2 separate regions of the Homo sapiens genome follow, and region 1 is linked to region 2. The links come from fine-mapping of genetic effects on gene expression. Tissue or cell type: cerebral cortex. Region 2 holds a variant in brackets; the other region holds the start of a gene. All regions are shown on one strand. Distances are from middle to middle.

Region 1 (8,101 bases), 94 kb after region 2:
CATGGGTGAGTCCTGAAATCAGACCACCACTCGCTTCCTCCAGAACCAGCCCAGGTCAGCCAGCAGCTGTGCTTTCTCCGAGGACCTTGAACTCTTCAGAAATACTTCCGACAGCTTCGCACACCAGAGACTGGGTTCCCAACGCGGACGTCTGCCCTGCGGGGTGGGTGGCTGGCCCTTCTCCTGTTCCTATAGCCCACTGCGGACACTTCACCACGGCAAAGGCTTTCGCTGTGCCTGGCTTTCTGAAGAGGTGAATTTGCTGTAACAGGTCACGGAGTTCCCAGTACAGGTCATAAGCAGATGGAGCCTTGAGGTTCCATCGAGCCAGGCCATAAAGGAGTAAAGGAGCAAAGCCTTTGTTTCTCTTCCTCTGAGGAAGGTGCAACGAGTGGCCTTGTCAAATCCTAAGAAGCTCAGAGCCGGCCGCAGCTTCCCCCACGGACTCATCAAAGGCCTCGGTTTCATTTACAACAAAAGCATTTTCAGACAGTGCTCACATCACAAACGTGCGGCCTGGCCTGTGCACACCACACCAGCGGCTTCCAATCGCCCTCTAGTCTGACCTCAGTCTCCTGTGGTCAGTTTTCAAAGTGAGTACTTGGAATCACAGAACAAAACCCCTCAAAGAGCCTCTCCAGCCGGCACTTATTAACCATCCATGAGAGCTGCACAACCCTGCTCCAAAGCACCTCTCCAGATGCCCCAGGCTTAGAAGCCTCCAGGCAGCACACACTGGCAGAGGGTCGGCCACCACCTTTTCATAGTGCTCATTTCCAACGGGTTCCCCAGGGTGCAAAGGCAAAGTGCAGGTGGTGGATGGTACAGCCTCTGCCACCAGGCAGCTGTGGCTCAGGAAACCTCTGCCTCCGGAGATGAAGTCTGAATGCTGATATAAATACGATACCAAAAACTGGGGAAGCCCCCTCCAGGCAGGAGAAAGCCCATATCACAGAAAAGTCATGAAGCAGAGCCAAGTATTTAAAAGGCCAAGGCAGGAGAATGGCTTAAGGCCAGGAGTTCAAGACTAGCCTGGGCAACATAACAAGATCCCAATCTCTACAGAAAATAAAAATAAAAAATTAGCTGGGCATGGTGTGCACCTGTAGTCCCAGCTACTCGGGAGGCTGAGGCAGGAGGATCACCGGAGCCCAGGAGTTCCAGGCTACAGTGAGCTATGATTGCGCCACGTCACTCCAGCCTGGGCAATGGAGTGAGACCCTCTCTGTTAAAAAAAAAAAAAAAAAAAAAAAAAAAAAGATGGCTGGGCACGGTGGCTCACGCTTGTAATCCCAGCACTTTGGGAGGCTGAGGCGGGCAGATCACGAGGTCAGCAGATCGAGACCATCCTGGCTAACACTATGAAACCCTTTTTCTACTAAAAATACAAAAAATTAGCCAGGCGTGGTGGTGGGCACCTGTAGTCCCAGCTACTCGGGAGGCTGAGGCAGGAGAATGGCGTGAACCCGGGAGGCGGAGCTTGCAGTGAGCCAAGATCATGCCACTGCACTCCAGCCTGGGCGACAGAGTGAGACTCCCTCTCAAAAAAAAAAAAAAAAAAAAGACAAAAATTGGCTGGGCATGGTGGTTCATGCCTGTAATCCCAGCTCTTTGGGAGGCCGAGGCGGGCAGATCACTTGAGGTCAGGAGTTCAAGACCAGCCTGGCCAACATGGTGAAACCCTGTCTCCACTAAAAATACAAAAATTAGCTGGGCATGGTGGCGGGTGCCTGTAACCCCAGCTACTTGGCAGGCTGAGGCAGGAGAATCGCTTGAACCCCAGAGGCAGAGGTTGCAGCAAGCCGAGATCACGCCACTGCACTCCAGCCTGGGCAACAGAGTGAGACTCCGTCTCAAAAAAAAAAAAAAAGACAAAAATTATAAAAAGGCCCCCAAATACAATGGAAAAGTGAGTTGATATTTGGGGCCCAGGGGTGGATATATGTTTTGTAAGGTCTGACATTTACATAATTCTTCTTTAATAAAAAACAAATAGAAAATTACAAACACACAACTGCTAGGTCTCCTCCCAGGGTCTTAGAAGCTTGAACTTCAGAAATGTTGTTCCCCCCACTTCCCCCCACCCCTGCTTTTCCCACAGTTTCCGGAGCCGGATTCGAAGGCAGAGGCAGAGTTAGCAGTATCATGAAACAGGAGAAAATGTAAGCAGAGAGAATATGATTGACTCCTTTCCAATAACTCCTTCTTAAGCCCCCAGAAGTCCCTGTTACACAAACCTTATCTGTTTTGGGATTTTCAGAAAGCATTTCTCTCCGTTTGGTCATCCTCCCTTGGCCAGACCAGAGGGTGCCCACTTGTTCACACGCTGCCCGCTTCCGAATCCCAGAAGGCGGAGCCTGGCCTGTTTGTGAGAATGGGATGGACTCGTTTTTTAAAAGGCCAAGGGGAGTGCAGGAAAATCCGACCGGGCGGAGCACGCCCTGGGTAACAAGATCTGTTTTTCTGGAAGTGCGACCGGCCTCTTCTGCCCCATTCGCTCCTCTGTGACACAAATACTTGGGGAAAGCGCAGGGCTCGGACAGCGAGGGTGTGGGGCGCTGGCTGGTGCTGCTCTTAGAGAATGTTTTCTCTTGTTCTCAAGGAAGGGTCCAGTTTCTGATGAAAAACAAGCTCAAGTCCCAGCGGCGAGTACAGGGAGTGAGGTCAGTGCTGCGCTGACGACATGGGTGGAGCGACCTCTCTGCTCCAACAGGACAATGTGGAACCCATTATCATTTCCAGCAGGAGGGAAAACGAAGCGCAGACTTTACACACTCAGCTCTCTCCCCTCCTTCCATGAATCCTATCTTTACAGCCCCAGCCCGAGCCACGCTTTCAAATGCAAACATAATTCAATCAGATTTAATTCTGACCTGCTAGCTGCTGGAGAGGAGACCGACTTGCCCCCCAGCAAAAGGGACTTTCAAGACTGGTTCCTGTCTGGAATGCACAAGAGGTGGCCTATATTAACCGCGGGACACGAGCAATCAGATTCTTCTGTGCAATTCAGATTAGCCAAACACTTGACAGGCGACAGGGCAGGGCAGGATGGTCCGCAGCCCCGCCAGGGCCCTGCCAACCCCACCAACAGGCTCCTCCTGCGAGGCCCCAGGAGCTCGGCTCAGCATCTGTTATCTTGGATGCAGTATTTGTCGAGGGGCTGGAAATGGTACATAAATAGCCGGGAAACAATGCTTTGAGCTGGCGCACGAGTGGGGATCGGGCTGCAACCGGGACGGGGTATGTGCAGGGGACGTCTCGCCGGCCCAGGTGGGAGAGCGCGCGGAACCCTGCGCCCCGCTCCCCCGCTGCGCCCCGCTCCCCCGCTGCGCGCCCCGGACGAAGCTCCCCCTCCAGGGCACAGCCGGGAAAACTGAGGGCCGAGAGTCCCCTGGAGTTGGGGGTCCGGGGCCCACGCGGACAGCCAGGCTCAGGAGCTCTCGGGGGTCGGCAGCGCGGACCCCCGGATCCCCGCAGGCTGGGCCGCCCTTGCCCGCGCTAGCCGGCCTCCGGGTACCGCCCCCCGGTCCAGGCCGGGGCCCGACAGCCAGTCGGTTCCCATGGCAACTGGGCAAACCTGCCCTCCGCGCCCCGACCAGCGGCCGGGAGTGTCCCCGAGCGCGCCCCGCGGCCTCCGCGCCCCAGGTCCCCGGCAGCGGCCGAGCAGCGCCCCTTACGAGCCACCCCCGGTTCCGCAGTCACTCCTCGCGCACCCCACACTCACCTCCGGCACAACCCGCCGCGCCGCCACGTTCCCGCGCTGCTCCCACCCGCCGTTGGCTGGGGCCGGCGCCCAGACCCGCGCGTGCCGCGGCGCCTCCTGCCGGCGGCGCAACGGGCGGGGCGGGGCCTCAAGGGGACGGGGCCACAAAGGGTGGGGCGGGGGAGAACAGGTGGGCTGGAGCTGGGCCTCGGCGCCCAATAGGCAGAAAGAAAGCCTCGAGGAGGCGGGGTCTCCAGGAGAGGGGCGGGGCCAACCTGCTAGAAAAGGCGGGCTGTGCTCTGGCGCCTCCTGCCGGCCGCCCAATGGACGGGGATGCAGCCTCGAGGGGGCGGGGCCTCACCGGAGAGGCGGGGTTTTGAAGAAAGGGGTGGGGCTGGTTGTGGAGAGGCGGGACTTGCAGCCCACCCACAGACTGCAGCTTAAGGAGGGGGGGTCCCCGGAGGAAGGGTGGGACCAGTTCTAAGTCCCTGAGCTGCTTGTGGGCTCTGGGCTCCTGCGGTTGGGTGGGCTATTTCGAGACAGCACCTTCTAGTAGCCCAGTGAGTGGGTGTAGGGGAGGGTAGAGCTGTGCCCCCAATTAATAAACATCTTCTAAGACATCGAAAAGGAACAAGGGAGGAATTTCCTCTCCCCTACCATCTGTCTCCCACCCAGAGTTTTAAAAGACAAATCAGGTCATGGCATTCCTGCTTACAATTATGCAAAAAAATGACCAGGTCAGCTCTGGGGCTCTGGCCCCAACTGCTCTCCCTGGGGACTTGTTTAAAAAGCAGCTCGTGACCTCGGCACTTTGGCTGGGGTTTTCCCTTTGAGGAATGTGGGCTAGACCTGGGAGATTCAGGTGGTTCGGAATATCAATATGCAGAATGTGGGCCTCGGGAGTGAACCTTTTTGTGGACAGCTATCGTGGTATGATTTCCGTAGTCATGACCCCATATTCGCGATGGAGGTCGGAGCAGACATTGATGAGTGTGGGAACAGACATTTATTGACCACCTGTGTGCCAGGCCCTAGGCAACTTTACCTAGGTCACCTCACTTAATGCTCACATCAATTCTTGTGAGACAGAGATGTCTGAGACATTCCAGGCCTCCCCTTTCCTCCACCTATCACCTGCTAATCCTAAAGTCCACCTCCTAAACCTTTTCTAATAAAAAATAGTGCCTCAAAGTCAACACAGAGAGACAGATTTGAGCCAGGCTCCTGTCTCCTTATTGATCAACTCACAATACGGACAAAAAAAGCTTTTGTCTCAAAAACTTAATGCAGTAAGATTGGCTTTTTTTTTTTTTTTTTTTTTTTTTTTTTTTGGAGACAGAGTCTTATTCTATTGCCCTAGCTGGAGTGCAGTGGTGTGATCTCAGCTCACTGCAACCACCACCTCCCAGGTTCAAGCGATTCTCCTGCCTCAGCCTCCCGAGTAGCTAAGGTTAACAGGCACCTACCACCACGCCCACCTAATTTTTGTATTTTTAGTAGAGACGGGGTTTTGCCATGTTGACCAGGCTGGTTTTGAAATCCTAACATCAGGTGATCCACCCACCTCAGTCTCCCAAAGTGCTGGAATTACAGGCATGAACCTCTGCACCTGATCAAGATTGGCTTCTAGCAGAGCAAGCGCAGAACCCTTTTGTTCAGTAATACTCCCATTTTTCAGATGAGAAAATAGAGACGCAGAGAGGTCAGGCTGCTGGAGGTAGAGACAAGAACTGAGCCAGGAATACAGGACCCTCTGTATACACACCAACCTCCTCGCCTACCCCAGGAAGGGATGCTTGAAAGGAATGACGTGCTTGAATATTTCATTCAGGTGCGCATGAAGAGACAATGGTCAGAGCTGAAGGAGAGCCTGGGTTCAGGCCTGGGTTTTCCTCCTGAGATATTCCTCACCCTGCTCCTGGCCCATCTCCCACAGTCCCCACATCCTTCTTCCACAGGGGTCGGATAACTACAACCCATGGGCCAGATCTGGGCTGCCTTCTGTTTTTGTAAATAAAGTTTTATTCAAACACAGCTACCCTCATTTGTTTAGATATTATCTACGACTGCTTTCCTGCAACCAGGATTTTACAGCCCCAAATATCTAAAATATGACCTGGCCCTTTATAGAGAAACTTTTCAGATTGCTTCTTGATCTAGAAATGCTGACTTTTTGGTATGAATATGCTGTTTCATGCCTCGAGATCTTCCCTCAGGCCGGTCCCTTGACCTTCAAACACCTTTTCCAACTGTATTAGATTAGCTGAGCTGCTATTAAAAAATGCCAGATCAGGTGGCTCGAAAAACGGAAATGTTTTATCTGGCAGCTCTGGAGGCTGGAAGTCCAAGGTGAAGTTGTCAGCAGGTTTGGCTTCTTTGAGGGCCTCTATCCTTGGTTTGCAGACGGCCACCTTCTGGCTGTGCCCCCACATGGCCTTTCTTCTGGGTGTGCACCTCTCACCTGTCTCTTTGTGTGTTCAATCTCCTCTTTTTATAAGGACACTAGTCAGATTAGACTAGGGCCCATCCTAACAGCCTCATTTTATCTTAATCACCTCTTTAAAGGCCCTGTCTCCAAATATAGTCACATTCTGAGGTGTGAGGGGTCGGGGCTTCAACAAACACGTGAATTTTAGGGGGACAAAATTCAGACCATAACAGCAAACTTCATTACCTGGCTAACTTCTTTTTTTTCAAATGTGTGTGTGTATATATATATATATATATTTTTTTTTTAGATGGAACCTTGCTCTGTCGCCCAGGCTGGAGTGCGGTGAGGCAATCTTGGCTCACTGCAATCTCTGCCTCCCAGGTTCAAGCGATTCTCCTGCTTCAGCCTCCTGAGTAGCTGGGATTATAGGCACCTGCCACCACGCCTGACTAATTTTTGTAATTTTAGTAGAGATGGGGCTTCACCATGTTGACCAGGCTGGTCTCGAACTCCTGACCTTGCAATCTGCCTGCCTCAGCCTCCCAAAGTGCTAGGATTATAGGCATGAGCCACCACACCCGGCCGCTAATTTCTACTCATCCTTTGAGACTCAGATAAGGCGTTTCTTTGGTAGTAGCCAACCTCCAAGATGGCCCCAGTGATTCCCACCTCTTGGTTTTCATGCTCCTGTATAGGCCCATGTTGAATAGGGCAGACTTGTGTAATCAGTAAGATACTGCCAAAATGACACTGTGACTTCTGGAACACAATCATAAAAGACGTGGCTTCTGCCCTTGCTCTCTCTTAGATCAGTAGTTCTGAGGTCAGTGAGCCATGGTGGATGTGAGTCCTCCAGCCCCAGGAGACTTTAGGTGACAGACATCCCAGCTGGAGTCCATTGAAGGACCCTGAGCCAAAAAAGCTCCCTCCTCCCTGCAGCAAAGCTACTCCCAAATTCCCAACCCTCAAAGACTATGAGATGATAATTTTTTTTTTTTTAGATGGAGGCTTGCTCTGTTGCCTAGGCTGGAGTGCAGTGGTGCAATTTCAGCTCACTGCAACATCCACCTCCCGGATTCAAGTGATTCTCCTGCCTCAGCCTCCCGAGTAGCTGGGAATACAGGCACCTGCCACCACCCCCACCTAATTTTGTATTTTTAGCAGAAATGGGGTTTCCCCATGTTAGCTAAGCTGGTCTCGAACTCCTGACCTCAAGTGACCCACCCACCTCAGCCTCCCAAAGTGCTGGGATTACAGGCATGAGCCACCACATCCAGCTGATAAATGTTTATTATTGACCTCAGCTACTAAGTTTTGGCAGCAGTTTGTTACGTAGCAATGGATAACTAATACCCCTTATCCAGAAAGATCTTCCTGTCTCCTAGACCTGGTTACATGTCCTCTTGTGTGCGCCCACAGTCTTTTATTTTTGTTACCTTTTTATTAAGCAAGTCCACATCAATCACACTATGTTCCTTAAACCTAAACCAGATGTTATTACTCCTCCACCTATAACCCTCTCATAACTTTTCCTTTTGCACTTAGAATAAAGTAGGTTTGCAAAACCCAGCTCCAACTGCTCTCTTCCTTGGCCTTGGATCTCCAGCCCTCAGAACTTCTTTCCTCAAGCACTCTGAGGTCATCTCCCTTCTCCGAGACCTTTCCTCTTTGGTCTCCTTGACCCCACAGCCTTCCCTCTGTGTTTTCATGCTGGGCCCCTTCCCAGCGCAGAAACTCATCTCCCTTCCTGTCTTCTGACCACCTCTTGACCATCACCCCCGAGTCATTCTCGATTTTATTATACATATATATATTATACATATATATAATATAGAGAGATTTAATTTATATATATTTATAAATATATAATTTATATATATATATATATAGAGAGAGAGAGAGAGCATGAGACAGAGAGATAGGGTCTTGCTCTGTTGCCCAGGCTGTAGTGCAATAGTGCAATCATA
Region 2 (8,098 bases):
AAGGCCCTGCACGGGCGGGTGCGCGGGGACCCGGCCTCTGTGCGGGTGCTGCTGCCCCTCGCCCACTTCTTCCTGAGCCACGGTGAGCCCAGGGTGGGGTGGCGCTGACTCGGGGCTCTGCTTCTGCCTTTAGTTTTAGGATGGAATTTCTTCTTCCCTTTTTTTTTTTTTTTTTTTTGATTGAATAGAGACAGGGGTCTTGCTGTGTTGCCCAGGCTGGTCTGGAACTCGTGGCCTCAAGCGATCCTCCTGCCTTGGCCTCCCAAAGTGCTGGGATTACGGGCATGAGCCACCGTGCCCAGCTCATATTTCTTTTTGATGGATTGCTGTGCCAGATGTTGGTAATTTTTAAACTTTTAAATAGAGAAATAAACAGACTCTTTTTGCTGTGTCCCTAGCCCAGGAAACCTGAAAGTCTAGGAACCAGCACCTTCCAAAGAATGTGCCATAGTGTGTGTGACTCACGAGCTGTCCGTGTCCCTGGGCGAGGGAGACCAAGTGCCGCTTCCCCAGCGTCCCAGCGTAGGACGCCTCGGAGCCCTTGGTGTCCTGGAGAGCAGGCCTGAGACTCAGGGCCCCTAACCAGTCACAGAAGCACGGCCAGGGCGAGGTCAAGACGTGTGCCCTGGCGGGCCCTGGTCTTGCAGGGGAAGCGGCTGCAGTGGACTCGGAAGCCGTCTACCAGCACCTGTTCACCAGGATCCCGGTGGAGCAGTTCCACAGCCCCATGCTGGCCTTTGAATTCATCCAGTTCTGCAGGGACAACCTCCACCTGTTCAGCGGGCACCTCAGCACCCTCAGATTGAGCTTCCCCAACCTCTTTAAGGTATATTTGGGCATCCCTGGGTGCCAGGGCAGGGGCATGGTAAGTCCCTGGGGCTCCTCCCCTCTTTCCAGCGGGGTTCAGGGCGAGTCCTGGCTGAGCATAGAGCCCTGTGAGTCCCGGGCCTGGAATGCGGTGTGCAGGGTGAGGTGGGGATCTGGGGTGTCCCTGCAGCGTCACGTGATTGACGGTGCTGTCCAAGAACTCCCTTGTGGGTGTTTTGGAGAGGGGGCTGTGACACAAGACGGTGAGTTTGTTCTCACAGCACTGGGGCAGGGCTGCTGCCTGGTAGGATCCCTCCCCCGGGAGCCCTGCCTGGTGCCTTGGGCACTTGGGTGCCATTTGCCTTTTTTTTTTCTTTTGAGATGGAGTCTCATTCCTGTCACCTAGGCTGGAGTGCAGTGGCGCAATCTCAGCTCACTGCAACCCCCGCCTCCTGGGTTCAAGCGATTCTCCTGCGTCAGCCACCTGAGTAGTTGAGATTACAGGCACCCACCACCATGTCCAGCTAATTTTTGGTATTTTTAGTAGAGATGGGGTTTCGACATGTTGGCCAGGCTGGTCTCGAACTCCTGACCTCAGATGATCCTCCTGCCTTGACCTCCCAAAGTGCTGGGATTACAGGCATGAGCCACCGCACCCGGCCTGGTGCCATTTGCTTTTGAAGTGTCTTTTGCAGCCTCGCCTCGCTGTAAGGTCTTTTCAACTGAGGTGGGGAATCCTCTTTCTGGAGAAAAACCAGGACAGTGGAAAATTATTGACCTGTTGGTACGAAAGTAGATACAGGCTGGGGGCAGTGGCTCACACCTGTAATCCCAGCACCTCGGGAGGCCAAGGCAGGAGGATCTTGAGGCCAGGAGTTCAAGACCAGCCTGGGCAACACAGGGAGACCTCTTGTCTACAAAAAGTAAACAGCCTCACATGGTGGTGTGTGCCTGTAGTCTCAGCTGCTCAGGAGGCTGAGGTGGGAGGATCACTTGAGCCTGGGAGGTTGAGGTTGCAGTGAGCTATGATTGCACCACTGCACTCCAGCCTGGGCGACAGAGCAAGACCCTGTCTCAAAAAAATAAAAAGCGGGAGGAGGCAAAGGTAGAAGCCCTCCTGGGGACTGCAGGTCTGGGACAGCTGTGGGGCCCTAGCTGGCTCCTCCCTCTGCCGCCTGCTCCACAGCTCCGAGCCGTGTCCGAACCGCTGTGCTGTGCCCACAGTTCCTGGCCTGGAACAGCCCACCCCTCACCTCCGAGTTTGTGGCGCTCCTCCCGGCCCTGGTGGACGCTGGCACAGCCCTGGAGATGCTGCACGCGCTGCTGGACCTGCCCTGCTTGACGGCGGTGCTGGACCTGCAGCTCAGGTGGGCCCCTCACCCTCTGCCAGCGCTGCGTCTCCCAGCCAGCTGGTTCCACACACTGGGCCCCCTCCTCGCTGCTCCTGACCCCTACACCGGGGACCCTCCTTCTTCCCCCCCCAACACCTGACCAGTCCTCCCCTGCAAAGCCACCTCTAGGACAGGGTGTGTCTGTCACCCTTGGCCACTTGCCAAGGGCAGCCCCTGCACCCTGGAGTGCCTCACCCGTCTTCACGCCCAGGCCTGGAGCCTCCCATGCCAAGCCCTTCCTGGCACCCGAGGTGCTGTGATATTAGGGACACCTGCCGTGTGTCTCCCTGACGGGGGTGCCCTTGAGTGCAGGGGCCGCATCCCAGCCTGGCCTTGGGCGTCTGTCCACGCAGGTCAGCACCGGCTGCATCCGAGAGGCCACTCTGGGACACCTCTCTCAGGGCCCCCAGCTGCCTGGAGGCCTTCCGGGACCCGCAGTTCCAGGGTCTTTTCCAATACCTGCTGCGCCCCAAGGCCAGTGGCGCCACTGAGAGGTACGGGGCCCTAGGGCCAGGGGGCCACCAGTGGCTCAGAGAGCCCGGCCACAGCCACTGGGGTGGGGCTCACTGCTCAGCCCTAGGCTGAGGCCAGGGTGCTTTGTGTCCCACACAAGGCTGCGTCCCCGTCATCACCATTATAGAGGCCCTGCTTCTGCACCACGGGTCTGCCGGGGGCGGGGCCTGGTCTCAGCTCTCTCTGCTGCCCACATCAACCCTCATAAGCTTGGAGGTTGGCCCTGTGGGTGCTCCATTTTGCAGATGGACAAACCGAGCCTGAGCCCAGGAAGCAGGAGGCCTGGGACCGGCCACAGGCCTCCTGCCCTCAGCCCACGCCAGCCTTTGTCCCGATGGCTTTACTGTCCCGGGTGTGCTGACGCCAGGGGTCTCCCCAAACCCAGGGGAGCAGGAGGTCCCGAGAGGCGATGAGTGAGGATGGGAGCGGGCTCAGCTGTGCGAGAGGGAGCAGTGGCGACGTGGCCCCGGCCTGCAGTCACCAGGTCGGGGAGCGGGCAGCACTCACGGCCACACTGTGTCCTCAGGTTGGCGCCACTCCACCAGCTGCTGCAGCCCATGGCCGGCTGTGCCCGCGTGGCCCAGTGTGCCCAGGCCGTGCCCACGCTGCTGCAGGCATTCTTCTCAGCAGTGACCCAGGTGAGCTCGC[T/C]GCCTGGGGCCCCCCATTCCCACAGGCCTCACAACTGAGGGGCAGGCCAGAGCCAGCACTGGGGGGCCCTCTTGAGCTCTGCAGAAGGCTGCTCCCGCCACACCCACCATCCACGGTCCCTGTGAGGGTCAGGGAGGCACATGCCACAGCCCCGGCAGGCCCCGTCCCTTGTCCCATCCCCTTTATTCCAGCAGGCCCCGTTCCCCAGTCCCCGTCCCATCCCCTTCATCCCGGCAGGCCACGTCCCCCAATCCCCGTCCCATCCCCTTCATCCCGGCAGGTCCTGTCTCCCATCCCAGCAGGCTCCATCCAACTGCCCCAGCAGGCCCTGTCTTCCGTCCCCAGGACAGGGCAAGTGAGTGGCCTGGGCTCTGGCCACACAGCTGGGGCCGGAGCAGTTTGTCCCCCTGCTGCCCCTGATAATTCAGCATCCCCATCTGAGGCCAAAATAAAGGCTCCCACAGGCTGGTGCCCCCCATCTCCCCCATTGCTGCTTCCCACCTCGGGGAGCTCTACAAGCCAGTGCAGGAGAGCCTGGGAGGTGGGGAGGCCGGCAGGGGGCTGGGCGTTGCTTGGGCGCACCCTTGGCCAAACAAGACGTGTGCCTGGCCTTGCAGAGCGGGAGTTGGCAGAGGAGCCGTGGAACAGAAGCGACACCTCTGCCGGGGGCACTTGGGCCAGCCCAGGGCTTCCCTCCCTGTGCCCGGATGCTGCCAGCTGAGTCTCTGTGTCCCTGGGTGTTGGGGAAGGCAGTGGACGAGGAGTCTCCAGCCCCTCACCTGCCCCCCAGCCCTCACCATGGCTTCACCCCCAACCTTAGGGCCTGCAGTGGGGGTGGGGCTGAGCCTGTTTCCCACTCCTGACCCCCAGGTGGCTGACGGGTCCCTGATCAACCAGCTGGCGCTGCTGCTCCTGGGCAGGAGCGACTCGCTCTACCCGGCCCCAGGGTACGCTGCCGGTGTGCACAGGTAGGTCCCTCCTGCGCTCCTGCCACAGCCCTGGGCGGGTGCCTCCTGGACTCCTCCCCCTCTCCCCTCCCCCCTCCCCTTCAGTGGCTTCGGCACCACCCCTAGCTGGGCCCTCAGCAGCCTCAGACCCTGCCACCCCCACCCACAGCCCCACACCCAGCCCCAGGCACTTCTCTCTGCTTCTCAAGAACATTCCCGTCCTTCTTTCTGCCGAGCCTGTCCTCTTCAGGGTTAGCTCAGGTCCCTCTTCCCCGTCTTGTCCCCTGGGGTCCTTCTCTCCAAAGGCCTGATGCATGCAGGCCCATCCTGGTTCCACTCTGAGCCTGGGCCTGAGGCCAGCGCTGGTGCCAGCCTTCTCCCCAGTGAGAACAGTTTCTCTGAGGCTGGCAGTCTTCTGTGTTCCTCTATCGGAGGGTGCAGCATACACCTACCACTCAGACGCTTCCCGGGTTTCTCCAGGCCCTTGGCCTGGATGGGGATGGGGTCATAGGTCTGCACAGAGCAGGCGTAGACCCGGCTTTCTGGGCAGTGTGCTGAGTTCTCAGTTCCTGGCCCTGTGTACGCTGAAACCCTCCCTGGTGGTGGAGCTGGCAAGAGACCTGCTGGAGTTCCTGGGCAGCGTGAATGGTCTCTGCAGCAGGGCGAGCCTCGTCACCAGCGTGGTAAGGCGGGCGCTGGCCTCCCACAGCCGCTCCTGACCCAGGAGGCCTGGGTGGGGGCTGAATCTCTGTCCCCGGGCCTAGGTGTGGGCCATCGGCGAGTACCTGTCGGTGACCTACGATCGGAGGTGCACCGTGGAGCAGATCAACAAGTTCTTCGAAGCCCTGGAGGCTCTGCTATTCGAGGTCACCCAGTGCCGCCCCTCTGCTGCCCTGCCCAGGTGTCCCCCCCAGGTGGTCACCGTGCTGATGACCACGCTGACGAAGCTGGCCTCCCGGAGCCAAGATCTGATCCCCAGGTGCCTGGTCAGGGAGGGAGCGAAGCCTTCTGGCTCCTGGGGAAGAGAGGTGGCTTCTGAGGTCTTCCCATCCAGGTGTTGTGAAATGGTCGCAGCAGCGCAGGTCCTGGGTGGGCCCTGCTGAGCTAAAGCCACTCTGCTGGGCGCTTCAGGCCTGGCCCCTCCACACAGACCCCTGTCCTGGGAGGGGAGCATCTGCAGCTGACGGAGGGACCTTCTTTCCCCAGGGCCTCTTTATTGCTGTCAAAGATGAGGACCCTGGCTCACAGTCCAGCCACCAGCTCCACGCACAGCGAGGAGGGCGCGGAAGCCATCCGTACCCGGGCCACAGAGCTGCTGACCCTGCTGAAGATGCCTAGCGTGGCCCAGTTTGTGCTCACACCCAGCACGGAGGTGTGCAGCCCCCGCTATCACCGCGATGCCAACACGGCCCTGCCCCTGGCCCTGCGCACGGTCAGCCGGCTGGTGGAGAGGGAGGCCGGCCTCATGCCAGGGTGAAGGGACAGTGGCCAGGGACTTCGGTGCAGATTAAGAGCCTGGGCAGCCAGCTTGCTACTGAGGCCAGGCTGATAGGAGCTCAGGAGGGCGCGGGAGTCCTGGGAGAGGAGGCAAGGCCCACGGTGGGCTTGGCACCCTCACAGACACGCGGGGCTGGCCCCCCTGCTCACCCTCTGGGCTTTGTCTCCGAGCCTTTTGCTCCCAGGCAACACTGAGCTGAGCTGAGGGGTGCCATGGAGCGGCTCTGATTGGAGGCTTGAGGCCCTGTGGCTGGGTCGGGTGGAGGCTGCTGGGTCTGTTTCCTAGTCTTTTGTTTTTGGACAGTTGATGGGCAAGAAGAGCTGCAGTAAAAGTAAATCTCCTTTAATAAGCGTCTGTATGAAGAGTGCGCGATCAGTTCCGTTACCTGCCCTGCACCCTGGGGAGAGGACCAGGGATGGGAACCCCTGGCAGCTGCTGCCAGTCCTGGAGGCTCAGCCCGGCGTGCCACTGCTGCTACAGAAACCAGGTCATTTGTGCACAGCCCGGAAGGCAGCGGCGCGAGTTCCCGGGTGTGGTCACCGCTCTGGGTGGTGCGCTTGTCAATGCCCCTTTTGATGCCCTTGAATAGCCTGAAGATGAAGGGGACCGGGGGAGGGTTGCAAGCGCCATGGCCTATGCAGGCTGCGGCCTCTGGCCATTCGGAGGGAAGGCCCCAGGGAGCCACCTGAGTGGAGCTCAGAACACTGGATTCGCGCGAAGGGGAGGTGTCTGGGCGTGCGGCCCCAGCCCCGCCACCTTCCTGGGCCCTGTGGTCCCACCCTCCGGACTACCAAGGCACAGCTGTGTCGCACGTTCCGCCCGGTGCCTGGGACGGGCTCAGCCGCCAGGGGGCGCCGCCGCCCCGAGAGCCTCACGCCCCGCCCCCAGGCTCAAACTCTTCCCCCTCCCCACTCTGGCTCCGCCCCCGGTCTCCTCTTTTGCTCTGGCCCCGCCCACCTCCCCTCCGGCCTCGGCCCCGCCCCCAATCCCCCATAGCTCTGCGACTAAGAAACCACAGGCTGAAGGCGACTGCAGGGTCCTGCCCCTTGCCCAGCCTCAGGACTATGGAGGGGGCGAGTGACGCGCAAGGAACGGAGCAGGGGACACCGTGCGGGCTCAGGAGCTCCCCAGATGCCCGAGCCGAACCGCGGGGTCCTCACCGCCAGGTTCCAGCCCAGGAAGCGCTCGCCTGCCCCACAGCCTGGGCCTTGGGTCGCGTTCCGAGCTCCAGGACGGCTGGTGTCCCCCGCGGCCTGCGATGACAGCCCAGGGCCGCTGAGCCGGGGCCGCAGGAAAGGCTGGCGCTGGCAGGCGCTTCCGTCGGCAGCACTGTGTTTGTGTTTCCACGTGGAAACAGCAGCGCACGTGTACAACTGTGCATACCAAGGCGTGCGTGCCAGTGCGCGGGTCTCGGGATCACTTCCCAGTGCGGTGCACGACCCCGCCTGCAGCAGTGGGTGTGGGGGCGCTGCTGGGCTCATCCCGAAGCTCAGAGAGCGTGGGGCTGCCCCTAGGCTCGGAATGAGTCTCCCACTGAGTCCGCAGCTCCCCTCCTGCCCTGGGGCGGGGCTTCCCTGACCTGAAGGCGTCGGGGGTGTCCTGGCTCCCAGCTCCCAGGCACTCGTGGGGCCACCGCCCAGGCCAGCTGGTGCTAAGTCCGCAGCCTGTGCAGCAGCGCCCGGCTTAGGACTGGGAGTGTGACTTGAAGGGCCGTCCCGCTCATCCAAGGGACAAGGAGGAGCTCATGGCCACAGGGCCTCGGAGGGCATGACCCCAGCCCAGGGAGGAGCAACCTTCAGGTGGCCTCCAGGAGGCAGCTGGGAAAAGGGCAAAGCTCACCAGCTCTCAACTTTTTTTTTAAATAAACTGAAATTTTAGAATAGTTTTTCAGATTTACAGAAAAGATGATAAACCTTAGAAACATTATATGCTAAGTGAAAGTGAGAAGTGACAGCCTGCTGGCAGTCCTCACAGCCCTCGCTCGCTCTTGGCGCCTCCTCTGCCTGGGCTCCCACTTTGGCAGCACTTGAGGAGCCCTTCAGCCCGCCACTGCACTGTGGGAGCCCCTTTCAGGGCTGGCCAAGGCCGGAGCCGGCTCCCTCAGCTTGCGGGGAGGTGTGGAGGGAGAGGCGCGGTGGGAACCAGGGCTGCACGCGGTGCTTGCGGGCCAGCGCGAGTTCCGGGTGGGCGTGGGCTCTGTGGGCCCCGCACTCGGAGCCGCCGGCTAGCCCCGCCAGCCTGGGCAGTGAGGGGCTTAGCACCTGGACCAGCAGCTGCTGTGCTCGATTTCTCAC

Which allele goes with the higher level. Positions count from the first base shown, and alleles are read on the strand shown. Sizes are in standard deviations (SD) of each study's normalised expression.
As copies of C replace T in region 2, the expression in cerebral cortex of the gene that starts at base 3,845 in region 1 goes up (large effect, 0.76 SD a copy in GTEx).

What was found. PIP is the estimated chance that this variant, and not a neighbour inherited with it, causes the effect.
Region 1: RADIL starts here. The variant in region 2 is fine-mapped to the expression of RADIL in cerebral cortex (GTEx, PIP 0.96).

What each region holds. Positions count from the first base shown.
Region 1 is chr7:4,879,872-4,887,972 of GRCh38, forward strand. It overlaps RADIL (Rap associating with DIL domain), which reads right to left and starts at 3,845. Exons shown (of 15, transcript NM_018059.5): 1 at 3,725-3,845. RefSeq lists enhancers at 2,547-2,841, 2,571-3,259, 3,260-3,947 and a silencer at 3,657-3,876.
Region 2 is chr7:4,785,603-4,793,700 of GRCh38, forward strand. AP5Z1 (adaptor related protein complex 5 subunit zeta 1) reads left to right here. Exons shown (of 17, transcript NM_014855.3): 9 at 1-82; 10 at 648-826; 11 at 2,032-2,174; 12 at 2,552-2,692; 13 at 3,238-3,349; 14 at 4,230-4,327; 15 at 4,857-4,989; 16 at 5,071-5,285; 17 at 5,513-8,098. The coding sequence ends at 5,783. MIR4656 (microRNA 4656) reads right to left here and starts at 3,037; the gene lies at 2,963-3,037. RefSeq lists a silencer at 6,632-6,751 and enhancers at 7,142-7,221, 7,326-8,000. The variant T/C (reference allele first, on the strand shown) is at 3,360.